Linked DNA regions of Homo sapiens: region 2 is linked to region 1. Evidence: fine-mapped expression QTL. A gene starts in region 1. The other region holds a variant in brackets. All regions are shown on one strand. Distances are between the middles of the regions.

Region 1 (12,479 bases):
TTTAATAAGAGATTTCTATTTTAGTTGAATTTAACAGAAGAAAAAGAAACTGAGGTGAGACTGAATAAATTGCTGTATTATGTCTTTATGCTGAGAGATATCAGCTCCTAAGAGATTTCTCTAAAGTTAAAAGAAATTAATGTCAATGATACCTCCAGCTGATTGAAGTCCACCCTTTCCACACTGATGTGCAATTATATGGGAAAAAAATCAAGTCCATATATGTAGGTAACAATTTCTGATTTCTTTTTCTGTTCCATTGATCTGTTTGTCTTTCTTTGGCCCAAAGCAGAATGTCTCAGTTATTATAGTTTTTAAAATAGGTCCTGCTATCTGGTACAAGTCCTCCTTTGTTTTTCTTCTTCAAAAATGTTTTGTCACTCTCAGTCCTTTGCACTTCTTTTCTACATATACAACTATATAACCATGTTTAATGACTGCTTTTTTTAAAAAAAATACTTCTCAATTGTCATGTCTTTCATTTCTTTTTATCATCTTATTGCACTGGCTAGGATACCCAATACAATGCTGAATAATTAAAGTGATGATACTGGGCATTCTTGTCTTATTCTTAATCTCAAAGGAAATTTTTCAATATTTTAAGAAATCATTGCTTATTATATTTTCTGTAGACATTTTGTCGGTAGGTTTTAATAAGTATGTCTTCTTGTCCTAGTTTGCTAAGGAGTTGAATTTTATTAACTGCATTTTCTACATCTGTTGAGATTTTTCTTCAATTTGTTGATGTGGTGAGTTAAGTACTACAAGCAAGAATACTTGATAATGCTAAAAACTGCTATTCACAGTGACAATGTAACATGTAAGAGTATCTGTAGACATAGATATAACACCTAATATCTATGCTCGTAGCAACCACCTTTATAAAGCAGAAACTGCAGTGGATGCAACAAAATCAATAGAAATACAGTAATAATGACTTCAATGCAATGTTGTTGCAACGATCTTTTTACAGAAAACACACTTGCCACTTGATTTTTCCATATTTTTTATGTGATGAAATAGACATAGCACAAAATTTACTATCTTAATCATTTTTAAATTTTTTTTAAATTTTTTACAAGACGTGGTCTAGCTCTGTCACCCAGGCTGGAGTGCAGTGGCACAATCATAGCTCACTGCAGCCTCAAACTCCTTAGCACAGTAATCCTCCCACCTCAGCTTCCCAAAGTGCTGGCATTACAGGCATGAGATCCTGCACCTTGCCTATCTTAATCATTTTTAAGTGTACAGTTAAAGTGGCATTAACTATATTTATTAAGTACATTCATATTGTTCATATTCCACCACCACCACCACCACCACCACCACCACCACCACCACCACCACCACCATCCATCTTCAGAATTCTTTATCTTGCAAAACTGAAACTGTATGCTCATTGAACAATAACTCCCTATCCCCCTTAAAGCTGTCCCTGGCAACCACATTCTACTTTCTGTCTCTATGAATTTGACTACTCTGGGTACCTCATAAAAATAGAATCATTCAGTCTTTTTGTGGCTGGCTTAATTCACTTCATGTAATGTCCTCAAGTTTCATCCATGTTGTAGCACGTGGCAGAATTTGTTCTTTTTAAGACTGAATAATATTCCATTGTATGAGTATACCATATTTCGCTTATCCACTCATCTGTTGATAGACACTTGGATTGCTTCCACATTTTACCTAGTGTGAACAATACCGCTATGAACCTGGATGTGTAAATATCTCTTTAAGACCATGCTGTCAGATATTTTGGGTATATACTTAGAAGTGGAATTGCTGAATCAAATGGTTATTCTTAGTATTTGAAGAATTGTCACACCATGTGGTTGCACCATTTTACATTCTCACCAATAGTGCATAAAGATTCCAGTTTCTTCACATCCTCACCAACACTTATTTCTTCTTAATAGTTTCCATCCTACTGGAGTGGTGAGAAGTGGTATTTGATTGTAGTTTCAATTTGCATTTCCCTAATTATTAGTGACGTTGAGCATTTTTTCATGTTCTCATTGGCCATATGTGTATCTTCTTTAGAGAAAAGTCTATTCAAATCCTTTGCCCATTTCTGCATTGGATTGTTTTGCTTTATTGTTGTTTTTGGAAGTTCTTTATATAGTGTGGGTATTAATCCCTTATCAGATACATGACTTGTAAATATTCTGTTTTTTACTCTGATAGTGTCTTTTCATGCACAAAGGTTTTTAAATTCTTGTCAAGCCCAATTTGTGTAGTTTTTTCTTTTGTTGCCTGTGCCATTGATGTCATATTCACAAAATCATTGCCAAATTCAGTGTTGTTAAGCTTTTGCCATATGTTTTTTCCTAAGAGTTTGTAATTTTAGTTCTTATATTTAGGTCATGATCTATTTTAATTTTTGTATATGGTGTAAGAGACCAGCTTCATTCTTTTGTAGTGGATATCCAATTTTCCTAGCACCATTTGTTTAAAAAACTGTCTTTATGCCAATAACACACTTGTTTTGGGTAATGCAGCTTTGCAGTAAGTTTTGAAATCAGGAAGTGAGTCCTTAAACTTTGTTCTTTTTCCAAAATTGTTTTGGCTATTTGGGAGTCCTTGTAATTCCATATGAATTTGAGGATGGAGTTTTCTATTTCTGCAGAAACATCATTGGGATTTTGATAAGGATTCCATAGAATCTGAAGATTGATTTATATAATATTAACATCTAAACAATATTAAGTCTTCTAATCCATGTACATGAGATGTCTTTCCATTTATGTCTTCTTCAATTTCTTTTAGCAATGTTTTATAGTTTTAATTGTACACATCTTTTACTTTCTTGATTAATTCCTAAATATTTTTTTCTTTTTGATGTTACTGTAGATGGAATTGTTTTCTTTTCTTTCTTTTTTTTTTTTTTGAGACAGAGTCTTGCTCTGTTGCCCAGGCTGGAGTGCAGTGGTGCAAGGCACAATCTTGGCTCCCTGCAACCTCCACTTCCCAGGTTCAAGTGAGTCTCCTGCCTCACCCCCTGAGTAACTGGGATTACAGGTGCCTGCCACCACACCTGGCTAAATTTTGTATTTTTCGTAGATACAGGGTTTTGCCATGTTGGCCAGGCTGGTCTCGAACTCCTGACCTCAAGTGATCCATCCACCTTGGCCTCCAAAAATGTTGGGATTACAGGTGTGAGCCACTGTGCCTGGCTGGAATTGTTTTCTTAATTTCATTTTTGGATAGCTTCATTGTTAGTGAATAAAAATGCAACTGATTTTTGCATGTTGATTTCATATCCTCCTACCTTGCTGAATTCATTAGTTATAACCATTTTTTAAATGGAATCTTAAGAAGGACTGGTGTTGGTTCTTCCTTAAACATTTAGTAGAATTCATCAGTGAAGCCATCAGGTCCAGGGCTTTTCTTTGTCAAGAGGTTATTTTTAGATTACTGATTGAATCTCCTTACAAGTTACAGGTTGATATGGTTTGTGTGTGTCCTCACCCAAATCTCATCTTGAATTGTAGCTCCCATAATTCCCACATGTTGTGGGAGGGAGCCGGTGGGAGAAAAAACTGAATCATGGGGGCAGTTTCCCCCATACTGTTCTCATGGTAGTGACTAAGTCTCACAAAATCTTATGGTTTTATAAGGGATTTCCCCCTTCACTGTTCTCTCATTCTCTCTTGCCTGCTGCCATGTAAGACGTGCTGTTTGCCTTCTGCCATGATTATAAGGCCTCCCCATCCACGTGGAACTGTGAGTCCATTAAACCTCTTTTTTCTTAAAAACAAAAAAATTACCCAGTCTTGGGTACGTCTTTATTAGCAGTGTGAGAACAGACTAATACACACGTCTATTCATATTTTCTATTTCTTCATGATACAATCTTCGTAGGTTTTTTGTTTCTAGGCATTTGCTCATTTCATGTAGTTACTCCCATTTTTCAGCATACAATTGTTCATAGTACTCTCTTATAATCCTCTTTATTTCTGTAGAATTGATGGTAATGTTCCCATTTTCATTTCTGATTTTAGTAATCTGAGTCTTTTCCTTTTTCGTAGTCAATTTAGCTCAAGTTTTATTAACTTTTTTAATCTTTTTAAGAACCAACTTTTGGTTTTGTTGATTCCATTTTTGTTTTATCTGTGTTTTGATCTTTTATTATTTTCTTCCTCTGCTAGTTTTGTGTTTGCCATTTGTTCTTGATATTTAATGTTAATAAATGTTTTACTTTTTAATAAATCTGTTAATATTCCAACTGTTTTTTAATATAATTCCTTTCCTTTGTAATCCTATGTTTTAAAAACACTTGAAAACATTGAAACGACATAGGCTTCACCACACTTGTAAAGGTGCCATAGCACAAAAAAGGTTAAGAATCTTACTCCTATTTAGAAACCCCCTTCCCAAATCCCCAATTTCCATTACATATCCTGCTATTTTCCTCTTAGATCACTGGTTTTTAGACACATAAATATTCCTGTTATTCCTTGAACAGAACAAAGCAAAACTTCTAGTCAGGTGCGGTGGCTCATGCCTGTAGTCCTAGCACTTTGGGAGGCTGAGGTGGGCAGATGTCTTGAACCCAGGAGTTGGAGATCAGCCTGGACAACATGGGGAAACCCATCACCACAAAAAATACAAAAATTAGCTCACTGCCAACCACTTCCACCCAGAAGGGATTCTTGTGCCTCAGCCTCATGAGTAGCTGGGATTACAGGCACCCGCCACCACGCCCAGCTAATTTTTTGCATTTTTAGTAGAGACGGGGTTTTGCCATGTTGGCCAGGCTGTTATCAAACTCCTGTCCTCAGGTGATCTGCCCGCCTAGGCCTCCCAAAGTGCTGGGATTACAGGCATGAGCCACAGAGCCTGGCCATCTCCACTTTTTCTTATCCCCCAAAAGGATTAACATCCCTGGCTTTATGTAGAATAGTGTACGCTGCCACATCAGTGTTTGAGTCATTCCCCAGAGGAGAGGGGAATCCCCCCTCCATTTTTTTTTTTGCAACATCTTGTCTTCCCTTTGCTGTTGCTTCCCCCAACACACTTGGTTTTGTTCTATCCTGTACTTCAGATTTGTTTTTTGTTTTGTTTTTTTCATATTGAAAAGATGACATTGCTCCAAGAGGCAAAAATAAATGGGAACTGAAAAAAAAAAGCTTTTTATCTTATTTATTTAATCTTTTAATTCACCTGGAATGAATATTATGTCAATTGGGAGCTTAAATGCTTAAATGTATTTTTCCCCAAATGGTTAACTAATCCTCCCAATAGCACTCATTTGAATAATCTGTCCTTTCCCCATATATGTTACATGTCTTTTACAAAATACAGCCTATTTGAGGTATGTTTCTGGGCTTTTGTTCTATTGAGCTGTCCATTTGCTTACACCAGAAATGCCAGTTTATTTTTTTGTAGTCTTGCAATCTTTTAATTTCTACTAGTGCTTTTTAATTTAACCTTAATCCACTGTATTTGTATTTTTTTCAGTGGTGGTAAAAGGAAAAAATTAAAAATCTAATGAAAGCAGCCAAAAGCACACAATTTATGTCCTGTTAAGACTTCCGCATGTAAGTATCATGCTCCAAATATATTTTTCATCTTTACTTTTTATGACGGAAAGGGCTCAAGTACTTTGGGAAGCAAAACAGAATCGAGGGACGCCGAGAAGATACACAGCAGGCATGTAGGGTAGCGTGGTTGGCAACTGTTCTTACAAAATTTTAATTTGAATTATACGTAATGTACGTAATAAATTACTATTTGGATTTCCCTTTGGCATAAACAGCCAGGGAATATAACTAACATCAAAGATCCCAGACTCTCGACACAATATACTACTAATCGTAACACAATTCTAGAGGGTCAAAAAAGGTAGAGAAGTTTGGACCGTGGAACAGACCTGGTGGAATGTCGACACAAAGCGTTTCAGGGTAGACAAAGCCTACTCAGAACACCCTAAACGCGGAGTTTTGCTAAGTTGGGACGCTAAAAGGCAAGGGAATGACAGGACGTCCGCAGGCTAATTCGCCATTAAGAAACAGAACCGCGGCTTCTTCCACCTCCAGCGTCATCGGCCCCCAATTCGCTGTAACAAACGGATAGTGTCTCGCAGCATCAGACAACGGACTTGGAAATCAGTTTGCGACCACGCATCTGCGCCTTTTCTAGGAAAAGAGGAAGGCGGGTCCAACACTGGTAACGGCAGAAACATAGTTCACAAGGGCCACTGCAAACGCCCCGCCAGCAGCGGAACCGTTATCTCGCGAGACGACGGATCCCCATAAGGCACAAACCTAGCGCCAAGGTTGGCTGTCAAGGTAGATTCCAGGGTGTGGAAGTGGCTTTGTGGTGCCACCTCTAACCGCTCGGAGGTCAACCCCCATTCTACACCGAAAACTAGGCCTTGGCTGCTATGGAAGGACAGCGGCAAGAAAGCCACGCAACCCTAACACTCGCCCAGGCTCATTTCAACAATGGAGAGTACGCGGAGGCCGAGGCACTGTACTCCGCTTACATTCGCCGGTGCGCTTGCGCGGCCTCCAGCGACGAGAGTCCCGGGAGGTAACTATCGCGAGACCTGGGGCCGCGGCGACCCCGGGTGGAGGCGACGTTGGGGTTGTTTGGGCTCCTATCTTTGCCTCTGGAGCTCACGGTCGGCGCTTGTCATAACCCAGCACTAGGACTGAGCGGGCGGACGTTCGTCTTTCTAGAAAGGCCTAGGCGAGGCCTAGGACGAGGGCGGCGGAGAACGCGGGGAGAAGCCCACCCGTGAGGAGCCAGCTGCCGCGACGGTGCGGAGAGATTTCCGGGAACCAAGCCCTCTGCGCGATCCTCGGGCGCGGGCCGCCGCCTCTCACCCCGCCGTCTCTCCTTCCACGTTCCTCATTCGCACCCAGAGACTTAGGACAGATAGGAATTTTCCACTCGTGATTTTAGCTGGCGGGAAATCCGCGACCTGGGAAGGGAAGGGGTCACGGCTGCGTAGGGCCACAGTACCGCGACTCCCATCTCAGTGTCACGGCGCAGGCTCTTGGTGGTGTTTTTCACTTGTGAAAAACGTTTAAATATGTGGAAGAGAGCATAACGAACGTCTAGGTGTTTATCACTTGGCTTAAGCATTATCAGTTTACCTATTGTATTCATCCATGGATGTTTCAGAAGGAACCACCATGTCATCATCACATAGTTACTTAATATCAAGTCGTCAGTGTTGGAACCATTCTGATCGACTAATAAGGTGTTTTGTTCTTTGGTTCCCTTTTCGCAGTTAGTTCAAGTCAGGATACACATCAAGTCTTTTTAAGTCTCTTCTCCACCTTCCCCTCTTTATTTGTTGAGGAAACCGATTCTTGTGTCCTTTGAATTTCCGTGTTTTGGACTTGCTGACTGAATCTCTTCTGTCGTTTAATGTGGTCATCTGTCTCATATTGCTGTGAATTGGTGGTTAAACCTTGAGGTTTGATCCAATTGAATTCAGATTCAATATCATGGCAAGAATACTTTTTAGGTGGGTGTGTGTACTTTCACCAGGAAGCACATAACGATTCGCTGACTTTCTCTTTGTGATGTGAGCGGCTTCACCTGTTACTGTCTGCTTGCCCAAAGCATCTTTTCGGCTTGTGCCTGGATGTGTAGCATTTGTTTTTACTCCAAGTCTTGCCTCGACTGGGCTTGTTGATGGTATGGAGTGGATCAGGATGAGAAAAGAACAGAGGGGTTGGTTGAACAGCTTTTTGAATAGTTGTGAGTTGTCTGTTGTGGATTTGAGTTTTCTGGACAGGATGCCAGCTTGTCTTTTGTATGAGGCTTAACTAAACACTAAGGACTTGATTCTTACCCTGTTTGTTACGCTACATGGAATTAAACCAGAAAGAAAATTGCCTTCTCATTTCAATAACACACAAGAATAATAATAGAAGTTTCTGAACAGGCAATAAGATGATACCATCTACTTTCCTCAGTGCACCTCCCCCATAAAAAAGATAAGTAAACATAGAAAGCGAAACTATTCATGTTTCAAGCTCTAAGAGTAGACTTACCTAGTAGATTTTAAAAAGTATTTATCAGCATCAGGTATGCTGTTGCTGTCTAGTCTTGTTATTCTTCCTTCTTTGCACCTCTCAGCCTAAGAACACAAGTGTCTGTAGCATATATAATAGCTATGCCTTACCAGCACAGGAAAGACAGTTTGTCATAGCGCAGTAGAAGGGAGTTCATCATGCCTGAATTCCAGTCTTGGCACTGCCACATGGCTAATGTCTCAGCCTCAGTTTTTCATCTGTAAAATAAGCTTTTGATAAAATTCTAGGAACTCAAGGATTGAAACTGAATTCTGTCATTTCAACTTTTTCCCTTCAATTTATCTTTTGGAGCTTACATTTATTTTCTAAGTATTGGGTCACTAAATCATTTTGAAACAATATTTGCAATTTTTGAATGCCTTTCATTCTGAATGGTTTGTGACGTTTTCTTTTAATATCTAAAGTATAGCTTTAGTCATAAACCTAATTTCCAAAGTGTGTGTGTATATATATACACACACTTTATATATAAAAAATATATATACACACACTTTATATATATATAAAAAATATTTTTTTTTGCGAAAGTTAGCAAATCCTAAAAATTCACATTTGGGTTAGGTAACTTGAATGAATTCCATTATAATAAATACTATCATTACAAAAATTTTAATATTACAGAAAATTTCGGCTTCAACTGTTAGTCCATTTCTTTAAAATATGAAACAAAATTTCCACATGAAAACGATTTTAGAATTTGATTTAATGAGATCTAATTCTAAGTCTAACATTTTATGATTCTCTATATTACGAATATATAATTAGTATTAAAAACTTATAACAATAATTTTGAAACTTCGATTTAATGACTAAAACCTTACTGGCATCCTGAGATTGCTTTTTTCTTTAAACTCTCTACTGGGAGCAGTTCAACTAGTGTCATGTCACACATAGGTGAAGGGGAGTGGTACCGTCTTGTAATCTAGGTTTTAACGGGGGTGCTTAGTGGCATCCAGAAGTATCCCTACATCCAGTCTCCATCACAGCTCATAGAATAGACGTTTTCTAAAATTGCGACAGTTCCTCTCCATCGTTAGCAAACTTGGTTTGAAGGAGGCCCTTGGGCTGTGAGTGCCTCTTAGGGTAGCAGTAGTTACAGTCCCTGTCTGAAATCTCAAGGATCAAGATATTAAGAGAAGTAGCTTTTATTTACACTAACTGCCTTCACAGATACTTTCGGAGGACTATACTTTTTACTACGGGGTATTACAAAGAAGTGACAGATGAATTCTCTGTTTGGTTCTAATTTGAGAATTGCTTTGGGAAAAAAGAAAGGGAAACAGAATCATCCCTGACTCAGAGCAGAGGCACTAATGTTCTCTGTGCAGACTATTTGTCCTGTGCAGAGAAAGGTTCAAGGCAGCCAGGGGCTGTGACCTGTTGAGCTGGTGGCTGGTCAGAGCTACCTGGCTGTACAGCCCAGGAATGGCTGCTAATTTAAAGCTCTTTGGGCAACCTCTAGTTCCCTCAGGTGCAGAGCCAGTTCTGCACAAAGGACATCAAAATTGACTGGAGCCCTGAGGGGGTCTAAAGGAGCCCACCCTCCTAGCAGGAAGCCAGCCTGGCATTGGGGAGGATGCCAGCTGAGGCTGGAGGGAGGGCAACTCTGTCCCCAGAGATAACTTCCTGGGGATCGTAGCATGTTGAATTTTCACTTAGCGTTAACTTTAGTTTTTTATTGGTGGAAAATGATTTCAAATCTTATTGTTTTAAGATCACTTAAAAATTTGAGAATGAAATTGATTCACATTGTGACATATCCATAGCAAACTCGGGCTTTGGGCTGGCTTTCCCTCTTTGCTTAGTATTTATCTGTTCTGTCTTCTTTGCCCTGCTGGTGTGTGCTTAGAAAAATGAACAATCATTTTAATGTTATATTCAGCAGAACAAATTGGCAGTGAACACACTGTAAAGTTAGTATGCTTTTCAGGTTGACATTGCAGTGGTATAACCCTACAAAAGTAGATAACAGGGTTAAACAAAAATTGATTTTAGCTCTTTATTTGTACGTTTTTTCTTCAGCTTGGATTTTCAGTGTTGATGCTGCATGTTATAGGCTGTGAAGTTTGACAATACCCAAAAGAGAATGAAAGTGGAAATGAGAGGAATTTGGTAACACGGTGTTTTTAATGTGAACTTTTTGTTTAAAGCAAATGCAGCCCTGAGGATTTGGCTACTGCATATAACAACAGGGGGCAAATCAAGTACTTCAGGGTTGATTTTTATGAAGCCATGGATGACTACACATCTGCCATAGAAGTCCAACCCAATTTTGAAGTTCCATATTACAACAGAGGGTTGATACTGTATAGGCTGGGTAAGAATTTTTTTTCTTTTTGAGTTTTGTCATTGACTGTATTCTGTTATTTCAGAGCTTTCAAATGTTGTAAAACTAACGTGGTAATCAAATTTTAAAGTTCTGTGAAATTTAGGTTTAGAGCTTGGAACAAAGGAAGTGTCCCTGAGTTTATTTTAGGCTTTTGATAGGCGTTATAGATCACAGCAGAGCACTGGGGTGGGAATTGGACCTGGGCGCAGGAGCAGGGGTGACCCCATTACTTTGTGCTTGTGCATTCCCAGCTGTGAAATGAGGGCAATTCAGATGTTCACCTGTGAAACTTTTCTGAGTTAAAATCTTTGAAGACACACAAGACAATAGAAAGTGAAGTTTAGATTCTTGGATTAAAGGGACCATAGGTAGTGTTTCTTCATTTAAAGTGTCAAAAAGAAAATTAGTTCCCGTTTCTTAATTTTACTGCAATTATGTAAAACAGGTGATACAGTTTTATTAAAATTTTAAGATGATTGATAATATTTACCTGTTAAATCTCAATAAATAAACCCATAGCTAATTTTAGGTGTATTATTCCCTAAGGGCACACAAAATTACTTTGATATACACATCTCTATATTATTAAGATAAAAAGATTCCTTTACTAGAAGTGACTGAAAGCTCATAAATATAAAAGCAAAAGTACATGTATCAAAGCTTTTCCATGAATAATATATAGAAATACTCGGTTTCTTTTCTCTTTTCCATTTTTTGGGTTCTGGTACAGGATATTTTGATGATGCTTTGGAAGATTTCAAGAAGGTCTTAGACTTAAATCCTGGATTTCAAGATGCTACTTTGAGCTTAAAACAGACTATTCTAGACAAAGAAGAAAAACAAAGAAGAAATGTTGCAAAAAATTATTGATATTTTTAACTTAATGGAAGTATTGATTCATGATCCTTACATCTGCATCTAGTTATCAGTAATTTAGATATTGAGCTATTTTGATTTATATTTAAGAAATTAATACATTAGCACTGAAAGTTAAATAGTGTGTTTAAGGTAGTTAATTTCAGGTTGAATGGGTTTTTTTTAATGAAGTGTAAATAATACCAATGTATAAGTGTATATTATTATATTAAATATTATAGTAAAAAGGAATGTGTGGTATTTTCTTCAGCAAAACTATTTTTGTGATTTTTTTATTCTCAACTTTTTATTTAAAAAATGTTACATCTGCAGAAAAGTTGAAAGTATAATAAACTCTTCAGTTAAATTCATGAGTTGTTAATATTGTGCCACATTTGCTTTTTCTATTTAAATATATAACTTTTTGCTGAAACATTTGAAAATAAGGTGACGAGGTCACAGTACTTCGCCCCTAAATATTTCAGCCTACATTTTCTAAGATTGAGGACATCCTCCTTTATAACCACAATACCATTATAATACCTAATAAAATGAATAATTCTGTAATGTCAGCCATATCCAGCCCATATTCCAAAGTGTGTAGATTTTTATTTGGATCTAGAGCCAATCAGGTTTCAATTGCATTTTTTTTTTTTATGTTTCTCTCAGTTCTTTTAATCTAGTCCCCTGTCCATTTTCTTGCCCTAGCATTGGCTTTGAGAGAAAGGCTATTTTATATAGCTAGGCTAGAGAGACATAACATTTAGGCTTAAAAATAAACATGTCCTACAATTTGAAAGAGTTCAGCTTGAATTACACTTGATTTTCTCAAGTAATCATTGATAAAAATAGGTTAAGATTTAAATATTGAACATATTTTCTGTCTCTGGATAATGACAATTGTTATCAACATTTACTGAATACTATAAGCCAAGCACTGTTCAAATCTCCATAATAATTTGGTGATCAGGTAGGAATGTATAGAGAGGTGAGGAAATGACAAAAAGCACTTAGTAAGTATAAAGTTTAAAAATCTTTTATTTTGGTGCTGCCAACAATTAGGCCCTTATGAAGCTATCAAAAACCGGGAAGAACTTGAAGGGAAAACAGACTAACACCAGCCATATGCCATCTACATTTTTTGTATTTTATTGTTGTTTGGCTTCCAAAGATTCCCAAACTAGTTTATTACTGCTATGGAAAAGCTGTTCTGTGGTGGAAATTACCCGAATCAGGAGAAA
Region 2 (12,479 bases), 260 kb before region 1:
CCTGGCCAACCCCTACATCCTTGGCACACAGCGATGGCCATGGATGAGCACTGGACTCCAGGTGAAGAGAGAGAGACTCAGCTTCATTCCACGCTGGCCTTGTACTGACAGGGGCTGGCTTGGCGATGTGATGGACACATTCCTGGGATATCTTCTGTCTGTAAAATCTGAAGTCAGACTCCCTCGTTCTCTGGGCACAGTCAGAGAGAGGATGGATAGGACATAACAGCCAAGGCAGGGCCTGAAGAAGAGGAGCAGAAGGCCTGAGTGGCCATGCCTGGATACAGAGGGAGGCCTGAGGGGAAGGCTTGCTCCCCATCTCAAGAATGGGTCCCTGTGGGGACATCTGGGGACAAGGGGGTGAGAGGAGCCACAGGGGACCTCCTTCTACCGAGGCTTCCAATGGGCTGGGAGACATGACCACTGTCTGTGGTTACTTCAGGGCTCTCTGTATGTGACTGGAGGACGGAGAGGAAGGTGTGCAGTGGTAGTAACGCTGGCCAGGTGTGGTGGCGCATGCCTGTAGTCCCAGTTGCTTGTGAGGCTGAGATGGAGCATTGCTTGAGCCTAGGAGTATGGGGCTGTAATGAGTTATGATTACACCACTGCATCCAGCCTGGGTGACAAAGCAAGACTCTGTCTCAAAAAAAAATTGTAACACCATTAAGAGCAGATATGGGAGCTAGACTTCCTTGTACACACACACACACACACACACACACACACACACACACACGTTGGAATGCTCAGAAGCTCTGAGCAGGACAGGCAGTAATTATTACACACCTATTGTATCTCCATGAGGCCACTGAGGAAGGAGAGGTCTCTCTGCTGTAGAGGGATTTCAGTTTATCCAGGAAGGACACACACACACACACCAGACACCCAGGCTAGAAGGCAGTGCATGAGTAAGCATTAGGCAGTGGCTGTGTCACCCTGCTCTGTGGATGTGAGTAACGGGGCTGATCAATGCCGTGGGGCAGGCTGGGCTCATGAATCTCTTTCTTCTCAGTTTGGTATGAACCACAGTCGCCCTTTTCCAGACATGAGCATCCACAAATTTTTGAGGTCTTTCTCCCTTGAGATTGTGACAGGCTCCTGCTGTTTAATTTAAATGAGAGTGCATCTCATTTAAACCCTGCTCCCTCACGATGTCCTTGGCAGGCAGGGTCAGCCCCCAGGAGATGGGGAGAGTTTAAGTGGGTTCTACGGTAGAGCACAGAGACACAGCGGCCTGGGGCGGGGGAGGGGAGCTGAGTACACAGGTGGGTGCAGTTATGACCACATCCTCCTGCTTGGCCTCTCAGCTCAGAGACAGGGAGCATTGCTTGAAGTCTTGGGCTGAAGATCCCCATCCCCTGCAAAGAGCTGAGTTAGCAAGTGGAAGGGGTCAGTCACGCTTTGCTGCAGCTAACAATGTGTGTGTGTGTGTGTTTTGTGAGTGTGTATATATATATGTGGTGCATATGTGTGGTGTGTGTGTGTTGTATGTGCATGTGGTGTGTGTATATGGTGTGGGTATGTGGGGTGTAGTATATGTGTGTATGTGGTGTGGTGTGTGTGTGTATGCTTGTGTGGTGTGTGTGGTGTGAACGTGGATACACGTGTGTATGTGTATGCTGTGTATGTGTATGGTGTGTGTGTTATGAGTGTGTTGTGTGTGGTGAGTGTGGGTGTGTGTAGTGTCTGTGTTGTATGTGGTGTGTTGTGAGTGTGTGTTGTGAATCCATCTTGTAAGGGAGGTATGAGTGTGTTGTGTGTTGTGAGTGTGGTATGAGTGTGGTGTGTGTGTTGTGTGTTGTGAGTGTGGTATGAGTGTGTTGTGTGTTGTGAGTGTGGTATGAATGTGGTGCGTGTATTGAGTGTGGTGTGTGTGGTGTGGGTATGGTTTGAGTGTGCTGTGTGTTTTGTGTGAGTGTGGTATGAATGTGCAGTGTGTGTGATGTGTGTTTGAGTTTGTGTGTGGTGCGAGTGTGGTGACTGTGGTATATATATGTGGTGTGTCGTGTGAGTGTGTATTGTGTGTTGTGTGTATTGTGTGTGATGAGTGTGTGATGTGAGTGTGTTGTGTGTGGTGTGTATGTGATGTGAGTGTGTGAGTATAGTATGTGTGTGGTGTCAGTATATGTTGAGTATAGAATGAGTGTGTGTTGTGTGTTGTGAGTGTGGTATGGTGTGAGTTGTGTGTACTGAGTGTGATATGAGTGTGTTGTGTGTTGTGTGGCATGTCTGTGGTGTGGGTGTGTGTTGTTTCATGTGTCGTGTGTTGTGAGTGTGGTGTGTGTGGTGAGTGTGGTATGTGTATGGTGTCAGTGTGTGTTGTGAGTATAGTATGAGTATGTGTTGTTTGTGGTAAGTGTGGTGTGTGTTGTGTGGTGTGTGTTGTGTTGTGAGTCTGGTGTGTTTATGGTGCAAGTGTGTGGTGAGTGTGCTGTGTGCGTGATGTCAATGTTGTGAGTATGGTATGAGTGTGTGTTGTGAATGTGGTGTGTGTGTGGTGGGAGTGTGTGGTGAGTGTGATGTGTGTGTGGTGAGTGTGGTATGTGGTATGTGTGTGGGGTGAGTGTGGTATGTGGTATGTGTGTGGTGTGAGTGTGGTATGTGTGGTGAGTGTGGTGAGTGTGGTGTGTGTGTTGTGAGTGTGGTGTGTGTGGTGTGTATGTGTGGTGTGTGTGGTGAGTGTGGTGTGTGTGTTGTGAGTGTGTGTGGTGTGAGTGTGTGGTGAGCATGGTGTGTGTGTTGAGTGTGGTGTGTTGTGAGTGTGATGTGTGTGGTGTGAGTGTGCTGTGTGTGGTGTGTATGTGTGGTGTGTGGTGTGTGTGGTGTATATGTGGTTGTGTGTGGTGTGAATGTGGTGTATGTGGGGTGTGTGGTGAGTGTGGTGTGGTGTGTCTGTGGTGTGTGTGCTGTGAGTGTGGTGTGTGTGGTGCAAATGTGTGGTGAGTGTGGTGTGTCTGTGGTGTGTGTGCTGTGCGTGTGGTGTGTGTGGTGCGAATGTGTGGTGAGTGTGGTGTGTCTGTGGTGTGTGTGCTGTGAGTGTGGTGTGTGTGAGTATGTAGGGATGGCTCCTTGAGAAGGACCAGGACATCTGCCGCTGTGGCCTGGCAGAGGACCCCTGCTCAGCATGGCCAGGGAGGGTAATGAAAGGAAAAGTGACAAAGCCTGAGTCCCCTTTGCTGGCCAAGCTCCCGCCCTTCTATGGATGGAAGAGGTTTCCTTGGCTGGCTCAGTGCAGATGGGGAGGGAGGTGAAGAGGAGGGCCAGGTTCAGCCTGATATTTGTAAAACCTCTTCCACTGAGTGTCTCTGGGCCCAGGTCCCTGTGGAAAGCCTTCAACATCACGTAGCGAATTCCTGAGTGTTCCTAGCTCCTGTCTGTCTGTCTGTAATACACTTCACTCCCGGGCCACTCTGGTCCCCTCCCCATCACAGCCAGGTGGAAGACAGGACACAGGAAACTGGAGAGTCAAGTGGCAGAGCCAGGGTTGTGGGGAGGGCAGGGGTGTCTAATGTCCCGGCTGGAGGCTGCCCTCAGCATGCTCTGGCCTCCTCGGGAACTTTCACATCCCCTGACCATCTTCTGCCCAAGTCTCTGGTGGGGGATAGGCATCCCGGGTGACATCCCAGGGTCTCTAAGCCACGTCCAATTCTCCCGCATTCCAGGGAAGGCATGAGAAGTAGGGTTGCCTGATAAAACACAGGTCACTCAGTTCCATTTAAATTTTAATTAAATAATAAATACTTTTTTAGGATGAATATGTTCCCAATATTGCATGGGACATACTTATACTTAAAAAATCCTATTGTTTGTCTGAAATTCAAATTAAACTGGGAGTGCACTGATTTTATTTGCTGAATCTGGCAAGCTTCACTTAAAGGGAACGACAGTTATTGTCATGCATCATTGAGAGAGCCCTTTCTATGTTCCAGGTACTGGGCTGAGCCTTTGAGTGTGTTATTTCCATTTACACCTCCCCACACCACTACCCTGAACCCCAAACTTGGATCCTTTGCTTACCACATGTAAGATTTCTGCCTTGTCTTTTGCACACCACCTGTACAATTTCTTATTTCTTTTCTTTAAATCAATTTTCTTTTATATCAGTTACCTTTAGATAAGCTTAAATCCGCTAACTTTTTTTAGACGGAGTCTCGCTCCGTTACCCAGGCTGGAGTGCAGTGGTGCAACGTTGGCTCACTGCACCTCCGCCTCCTGGGTTCAAGCAATTCTTGTGCCTCAGCCTCCCGAGTAGCTGGGATTACAGGCACGTACCACCACGCCCAGCTAATTTTTGTATTTTTAGTATAGACAAGGTTTCACCACATTGGCCAGGCTGGTCTCCAACTCCTGATCTCAAGTGATCTGCCTGCCTTGGCCTCCCAAAGTGCTGGGATTACAGGCATGAGCCACCGCGCCCAACCCAAACCCACTTACCTTTAAAGGAAGTTTTATATTCATTATCACTTGTCATGAATATCTGCAAAATTCAGTACGATGTTATCATTGTATTGCCTTTCGGATGCCCTTTTTGAGGCTGAGGCATTCTGAGGAGGAGACTTTCTCCTTATGTCATCAGGCAAATTTGGGGGAAAAGAAAAAAGGGATGTATTTCTCACTATGTTATTTATCATTGTTTAAAGGTATGGCCATGTACTATATAAAATAATCTATCATACCACCCCAAATCTCCAGTGATGAGCATTCTACAATTTGGGGAACTTGGTAGAATTATTATCCCTATTTTGCAGTTGGGAAAATAGCTATGATCACAAAGCTAAGAAGCTAAATAATCTTCATTAGTACCAAACCCTGAATCTGCATGGTGCAACCGAAATGAGTATTTCAGGCAAAGAAGAGTAGGTGGGATTCCAGCCGTGAGTCTCCTTCTTTCTGAGGAACTCCCTCATCCTGCTTCCCACTGACACCTCTGCAAGATGCTGGCCCCAGGGTACCCATCCTGCCTCGCTTGGCCTCCTCACACAGGCTAGGTCTTTTACTGACACCATGATGAATCCTGAGTGAGATAAGCAAGGAAATAAACAGAGAAGCCAAGGATCACACACATGATAAACTCCCCTAGCTCACTTCTAACCCACAGATGTGATCTACAGCTCTCTTGCTCCTCAGGCTCCCAGACCATCCCACTCCGCACCCCACCTCATGTGCCTCCCAAACCACTGGCCCGACCCCTCAATTCCTGCTCTCTGGCCTGCCTCCCTGTAGAGGGTGTCATTATTCACCCTGGAACCTGAGGGCTGGTCTCCTTCATTCCTGAACCCCTTTGCTGCCCAAGCCAGGAATTTGGTTCTAACCAGTCTCCTCCATACTAATCTCTCACCTTGTCCTCAGGGAATGCTCAGCCACCTGACCCCCATCACCAAACCCATAGTTTAATGACCCTCTAATCTTTTAATGACCATAGCATCCATTTACCAAGTTGGGCTCTGCCTTGGTCACAGAGCCAGGCACTTGTCCCC[C/G]TGAAGAGAAAGGCAGACCTTGCCTGTGACAGACAAAGATGAAGCAGCGGGGAAATGGGGCTGTAGTTAGGTCTTCTTGGAGCCTCGCTGGGAGGCCAGGAACTGTCTGCTGGGTCCACACTCTGTAAGCCAAAGGGAGACCCTGCAGCTCCACTGTCTGCACATTCGAGAGCCTTCCCTGGAGTGGAAGCTTTCTGTGCCTGGCACTTGGACCTGGGGGACCCGCATTTGGCCCCAGGCTTCCTTCTCTGAGCTTCAGTCTCTTCTTCCACAAGACAGTTCAAACATTGCTTACCACAGAAGGTTCCTGAGTATCTCATGTGAACAGCTATGTGAAAGGCTGTGTTCCTATATGATAGTGACCAACTTGATATTATATGTTAACAAAATCCTCTGTACAGCACAATTAAAATTCACAAAATATTTAGTACCAGTCCTAAAAAGAAATGCAAGAAACTTACAAAGAAAACAGTAAAACTTAATGATGGACATAAAAGACCTAAATAAAGGGAGATATATATTCTACTACATTGGGAAATTTCAATATTATAAAAATATCCCTTATAAAATTATCTATAAATTTGGCGCAATCCCAACAACCATCTCACTGGAATTCTTCATTAAAATAGACAGATGATGATTAATATTCACATGGAAAAAATGCATAAGAAAAGACTTTTGAAAAGGAAGAACAGTAAAGGGGAACTTATCCTGCCAGATATCAAAACTATTAAAAATGTGGCCAGGCATGGTGGCCCCCACCTGTAATCCCAGCACTTTGGGAGGCCGAGGTGGGCAGATCACTTGAGGCCAGGAGTTTGAGACCAGCCTGGCCAACATAGCAAAACCCTGTCTCTACAAGAAATACAAAAAATTAGCCGGGCATGGTGGTGTGCACCTGTAATCCCAGCTACTCAGGAGGCTGAGGTACAAGGATCACTTAAACCCAGAAGGTGGAGGCTGCAGTGACCCGAGATGCCGCCATGCACTCCAGCCTGGGTGACAGAGCAAGATTCTGTCAAAAAAAAAAGTATTAAAAAGGTAAATTGAGGCACAACAAAATGTTAATAAGTTTATTTGAGTAGACAGAGATTTATGAATTGGGTTCCAAACCAGAAGTGGTTGGGAAGCTTCACTGAGGGACTACAAGAGGGAGGCTTTTATAGGATGAAAAGGGAAGTAAAGCAAAAAAAATTTGATTGGTTGTAGTTATACACTTGCCTTCTTTGGCTTATCCTGTTGGAAACTGTTCCCAGTTATATAAGTTTGTTGGCTGCTTCCGATTAGTTGAGCTTAAATTCTATTTTTCTTTGACATAGGCATTTGGGGCCAGGTATAGTGGCTCACACCTGTAATCCCAGCACTTCAGGAGGCTGAGGCAGGATGATTGCTTGAACCCATGAGATCGAGGCTGCAGTGAGCCAAGATGGCACTACTATACTCCAGCCTGGGCAACAGAGCAAGACCCTGTCTCAAAAAAAAAAAAGTATTTATAAGAAATGGCCCAGGTTAAGTTTCACTCATGTTTACAAATCAAACAAGGTTAAGGTCACTTATCCTAACTGCCTTTGTCTGTGTAGGGATTCTTCAGGTCTGGTCTCCATTTTAATTTACTTTAACAAAACATATTATGAAGTTAGAGAATTAAAAATAATATAGGATTAAATAGACAAATAGACCAAAGTAATAGGATAGTGAGTGCACAAACAGACCCTCGAATATGTAGAAACTTAGTGTATGATACAGTTGGTATTTCAGATGAGTGACAAAACATTCAATTAAATATTTTAGGAGAAACAACTGCAGAAAATGAAAGTCAAGTTTAATTTCTACTTCACACCAGTCATAATAATAAATTCCAGGTTACTTAAAGAACTAAATATATCTTTTTAAACTGCAAAAGAATTAGGATAAAATGTAGGAGATTGTTTTTGTGGTTTTGTGATAAAGCATATGAAGTAAATAATATATACACATACTTTTTTTGAAAAAGAAGAACTAAGTGGGAATTAGTCTACCCAATTCCAAGATGTTATATAGCTATGATAATTAGGACTGTGTGATATTGGTGGAGGGATGGAAGCATAAATCAATGGGAAAGGATGGAAAATCCAGAAATAGACCTACACAGATATGCGCAACCGAGTTTTGAAAAAGATGCAAACGCAATCCAATGGATGAAGGATAGCCTTGTAAACAAATGGTCCTGGAACCACTGAACATCCATAGGTAAAAGTGAACCTTGACCTAGACTCCAGGCTGTATAAAAAAATTAACTCAAAATGAATCACAAACATAAATGTGAAACCTAAAACTACAAAACTTTTAGGAAGAAAATACATGGGAGAAACATTTTTGTGGTTTTGGGCTAGACAGAGTTCTCAGCCTTGACACCAAAAGTATTATCCATAAAAGGAAACATCAATAAATTGGGCTTCATCAAAACTGAAAACTTTTGCTTTGTGAAAGACCCTGTACAGAGAATAAAAAGACAATCTAAAGATTGGGAGAAGATATTTGCAAAACACAGAGGACTAGAGCCTAGAATACATACATTTCTCTCAAAACTGAACAATAAAAAACAAAGAATCGAATTCAAAAATGGGCAAAAGACATGAACAGACATTTAGCCAAAGAGAGTGTACTCCTGGTACTCCTGGTTATAAGCACATGAAAAGATGGTCAACATCCTTAGCCATTAGGAAAGTGCCAAGACAACCACATGAGATATCAACACACATCTATCAAAATGGCTAAAATAAAAAATAGTGACAACATCAAATGCTGACCAGGATATGAAGAAATTGGATCACTTATACTTCGCAGATGGGAATGTAAAATGGCATAGCCACTGGAAAATCATTTGGAAGTTTCTTAAAAAACTAGGTGTGCAACTATCACAAGTCTTAACAATTGTACTTTTCAATGTTTATCCCAGGGATATGAAAACTTATGTTCACACAAAAACTTGTACAAAAATATCTGCAAACTGGAAACAACCCAGATATCCTTCAATGAATGAATGGTTAAGCAAATGGAGTGCAAGCACACCATGGATTACTTCTCAGCAATAAAAGGGAAGAAGCTATCGATACACAAAACCACCTGAATGAATCTTCAGGGCATTATGTTGGCTGAAAAAAAGTCAATCTCAAAAGGTCCCATACAGTTGATTCTATTTATATAACATTCTTGAAATGACAAAATTATAGAAATGGAGAGCAGACTAGTGGTTGCCAGAGTTAAAGAGGGGATGGCAGTGGACAAAGGAGTGGGGGAAAGAGAAGTGGGTGTGGTTCTAAAAGGGCAACACAAGGGCTCTTTGTGGTGGGGAAATCATTCTGTATCTTGACTGTATCAACGTCGAGTCCAATATCAGTGTCCTAGTTGTGATATTCCAAGATGTTACCATTGGGGGAAACCGGATTAAGGGAACATGGATCTTCCTGTATTACTTCTTACAACTGCATGTGAAGCTACAATTATCTCAAAATTAAGACTTTAATTTAAAAAACTACAAAAGAATTAGAAGAAAATATAGGATATTATTTTTATGAATTAGTGATAGGGAAAGCTTGTGCAATAAGGCACTTAATATAAAAGCATTAAGGAAGATATGAATAAATTTAACGACATCAAAGAGTACCATCAACATGACCCAGTGCAGTGGTTCACACCTGTAATCCCAGCACTTTAGGAAGCTGAGAGGGGAGGATTGCTTGAGTCCAGGAGTTGGAGACCAGCCTGGTCAATAGAGTGAGACCCTGTCTCCACAAAAAAAAAAAGCCAGGTGTAGTGGTGCATATGTGTGGTTTCAGCTACTTGAGAGGCTGAAGCGGGAGGATCACTTGAGCCCAGGAGTTTGAGACTACAGTAAGCTGTGATTGCACTACTGTACTCCAGCCTGGGTGACAGAGTGAGACTCTGTCTCTTAAAAAAAAAAAAAGACACCATCAACAAAATTGAAAACTAGCAACCAACTAAAAAAATTGTAATAATTACAATATACAAACAACATTCAAAATATGTAAAAATCTGCTATAAGTCAATATGAAAAAGTAAACAATGCTTAGGAAAACAGGAAAAGAATATGAAAGGAAAAATCACAAGAGGAGAGATTCAAATGGCCAAAAATCTATGGGAAGCTGCAATATCCCTGATAATAAAGGAAATGTAAATTAAAATAATGAAAAAACATTTTTTATTCGACCAGACAAGCAAAATAGTAAGTTTGATTGAATGTAGGGCAGATGAAGATGTGGGCAGTAGTCTCATATTCTGCTGATGGGAGTATCAATTGGTAAAGTCACTTTGGAGGGCAATTTGATAGAATCTATTAAAACTTCTATTTCCCTTATGATCCAGCAAATCTACTTCTTGGTGTACCTCTGGAGAAACAGTCATGTGTGCACGAGGCAGCAGGCAAAGAATCCTTGCTGCAGCTTTCTAGTAAAGAACTGGAAATGACCTAGCTGTCATCACTGGGGAATGGCTGAATAAACTCTGGTGCATCCATTCTGTGGAATACTGAACGTACAGCACACAGGAAAGACACAAAGCAAGTTGCTAAATAATACACAGAGAATGATAGACACCATTAATGTAAGCACACACACACACACACAACTTCTGGAGGTAATTTTCATTTTATATGCATAACCACAAACCTCAAATGGTCATGCAACACAGCCGGGTAATTCTAAAATGTTTCTCTACTAAGTTTCTTTTCTCTGTCTAAAATGATTATTTCGTACATTCTCGCTCTTCCCATCCCCCACATCCTCTCCCCACGTCACATCCAGCTGATGACCTTTCTTAACACTTCAACCAAAAAAACCCAGAAGCCCTCAGCCAGGGACAACTGTGCCTCCCACGATGAAATCGCCAATCCTCCTTGAATATGTGCCAACAACAATTTTCCCTCACCCTGCCAACCTCTCAGCCTCCCTCCTGCTCCTTTCAAAGGACAATCCCTTCACCTGCTATCACCTTGCTGAGGACTTTGCTCCTGCAATTATCCTCTCTCTCCTGCATCATTAGATTCCCCCTCCCTACTCTGTCATTCTTGTCAGTACACAAACATGCTCCAGTATTTCCCATATTCAAAAACAAATCTCCTTTCACACATACCTTTCTCACTATGTCTTTGCTCAATGGGGTAGACAGACAACTGTCCACCAAAAATCCACGGCCTCTTTGCACAGTGTAGTGCTGCTGCTGGCAGTGGCTGCCCAGCCAAGGACCACACTTCCTGGCTCCTTTTGCATACTCATGAGAACATGTGACTGAGGTCTGGATAACAGAATGTGGGCAGAAGTGGTGTACGCAACTTCCAGGTATGGCCCATAAAATTCTTCTACACGATCCTCCATATTCTCTTTCCTCTTCTGCCAGGTTGATGTTGACACCTAGGGCAACTAAGGGTGCTGTGTGTTGAAGAAGATGTCTAGGCCATAAGGTAAGTGCTTAGATCCCTGAATAACTGTATGGAGCAGAGCTCTATCCTCACTTCTCCCACTCCTATCACTGATTGGAATTTAAAAGAGAAGAAATAAACTTCTATTTAGTCAAGCTAAATAGATTTTGGTGGTTTATGTGTTACAACATCTGGCCTTATCTTAATTAATACACCATTTATAACAAGATTTCTCAAAAGGGTTGCCTCTATTTCCTGGAGCCAGATCAACCAGTTTTGTCTGGGTTCAAATTCCAGTTTTGTCATTTCCTAATGTGTGTGATCTTGGACAAATTACTTAAAGATCTATTCCTTATCTGTAAAATAGGATAATAATTGTACCTATCTCAAAGGGCTGTTGCACAGATTAATATATGTAAAGCACTTAGATCAGTGTCTGGCACATAGTAAGTTTTATATAAGTTCAGCTATTATTATCATGTTAAGCCACTCACGCCCATTCCAGCTCCCTTCTGTCTCCACCACTCTACTGAAACTGCTCTTGTCAAGATGGGCTCTATGCTGCAAAATGCAAATGTACATTTCTCTTGCCTCGCTTAATTCAACTCTCAGCAGCAACTGACACAGGTGTCCGCTGCCTCATTTAAAAAAGTATCATGGAAGATTGCAAACACACACAAATGTATTTCCTTTTTGAAATAATTTTCTTCCTTTTCTGGTTGCAGCTCTGTGCAGTGAGGATCTCTAATGTATGCCTGTAGCCATGCTGTCCAAGGGCCCACTGCAGTATGCGCAGGTCTTTGGATGCAAGAAAAGGGCCACAGCTGTGGCGCCCGGCAAACACAGCAATGGCCTCATCAAGGTGAATGGGTGGCACCTGGAGATGATCGAGCTGCATATGCTACAATACAAGCTGCTGGAACCACTTCTGCTCTGGGCAAAGAGCGATTTGCTGGTGTGAACATTTGTGTTCATGTGAAGGGTGGTAGTCATGTGGCCCAGATTTGTGCTGTCCATCAGTCCATCTCCAAAGCCCTGGTGGCCTATTACCAGAAATATATGGATGAGGCTTCCAAGAAGGATATCAAAGACACCCTCATCCAGAATGACCAGACCTTGCTGGTAGCTGGCCTCCTTCGCTGTGAGTCCAAAAAGTTTGGAAGCTCTGGTGCCTGTGCTCGCTACTAGAAATCCTACCAATAGGCCAGGCACAGTGGTGCACACCTGTAATCCCAGCACTTTGGGAGGCTGAGGTGGGCGGATCACCTGAGGTCAGGAGTTCGAGACCAGCCTGGCCAACATGGTGAAACCCTGTCTCTACAAAACTACAAAAATTAGCTGAGCCTGATGGCGGGTGCCTGTAATCCTGGCTACTTGGGAGGCTGAGATGGAAGAATCACTTGAATCTGGGAGGTGGAGGTTGCAGCGAGCCAAGATTGTGCTATTGCATTCCAGCCTGGGCAAGAGAGTGAGACTCCATTTCAAAAGAAAGAAAGAAAGAGAGAGAGAGAGAGAGAGAGAAGAAAGAGAGAAAGAAATCCTAGCAATAAGCTCATCACAAGGATCAGGATTAACTTGTATAATAA

What was found.
Region 2: its variant is fine-mapped to the expression of TTC32 in whole blood (TOPMed, PIP above 0.99).

What each region holds. Positions count from the first base shown.
Region 1 is chr2:19,895,761-19,908,239 of GRCh38, reverse strand. TTC32 (tetratricopeptide repeat domain 32) reads left to right here and starts at 6,257. Exons shown (of 3, transcript NM_001008237.3): 1 at 6,257-6,534; 2 at 10,205-10,371; 3 at 11,114-11,609. The coding sequence starts at 6,386. The coding sequence ends at 11,253. RefSeq lists enhancers at 5,905-6,144, 5,534-6,414, 6,595-6,694, 6,775-6,834, 6,975-7,164 and 1 more.
Region 2 is chr2:20,155,235-20,167,713 of GRCh38, reverse strand. It overlaps the pseudogene RPS16P2. Among named protein-coding and RNA genes, the nearest start is that of SDC1, 64 kb to the left of the region's middle. RefSeq lists enhancers at 1,423-1,502, 2,975-3,475 and a silencer at 10,055-10,144. The variant C/G (reference allele first, on the strand shown) is at 5,478.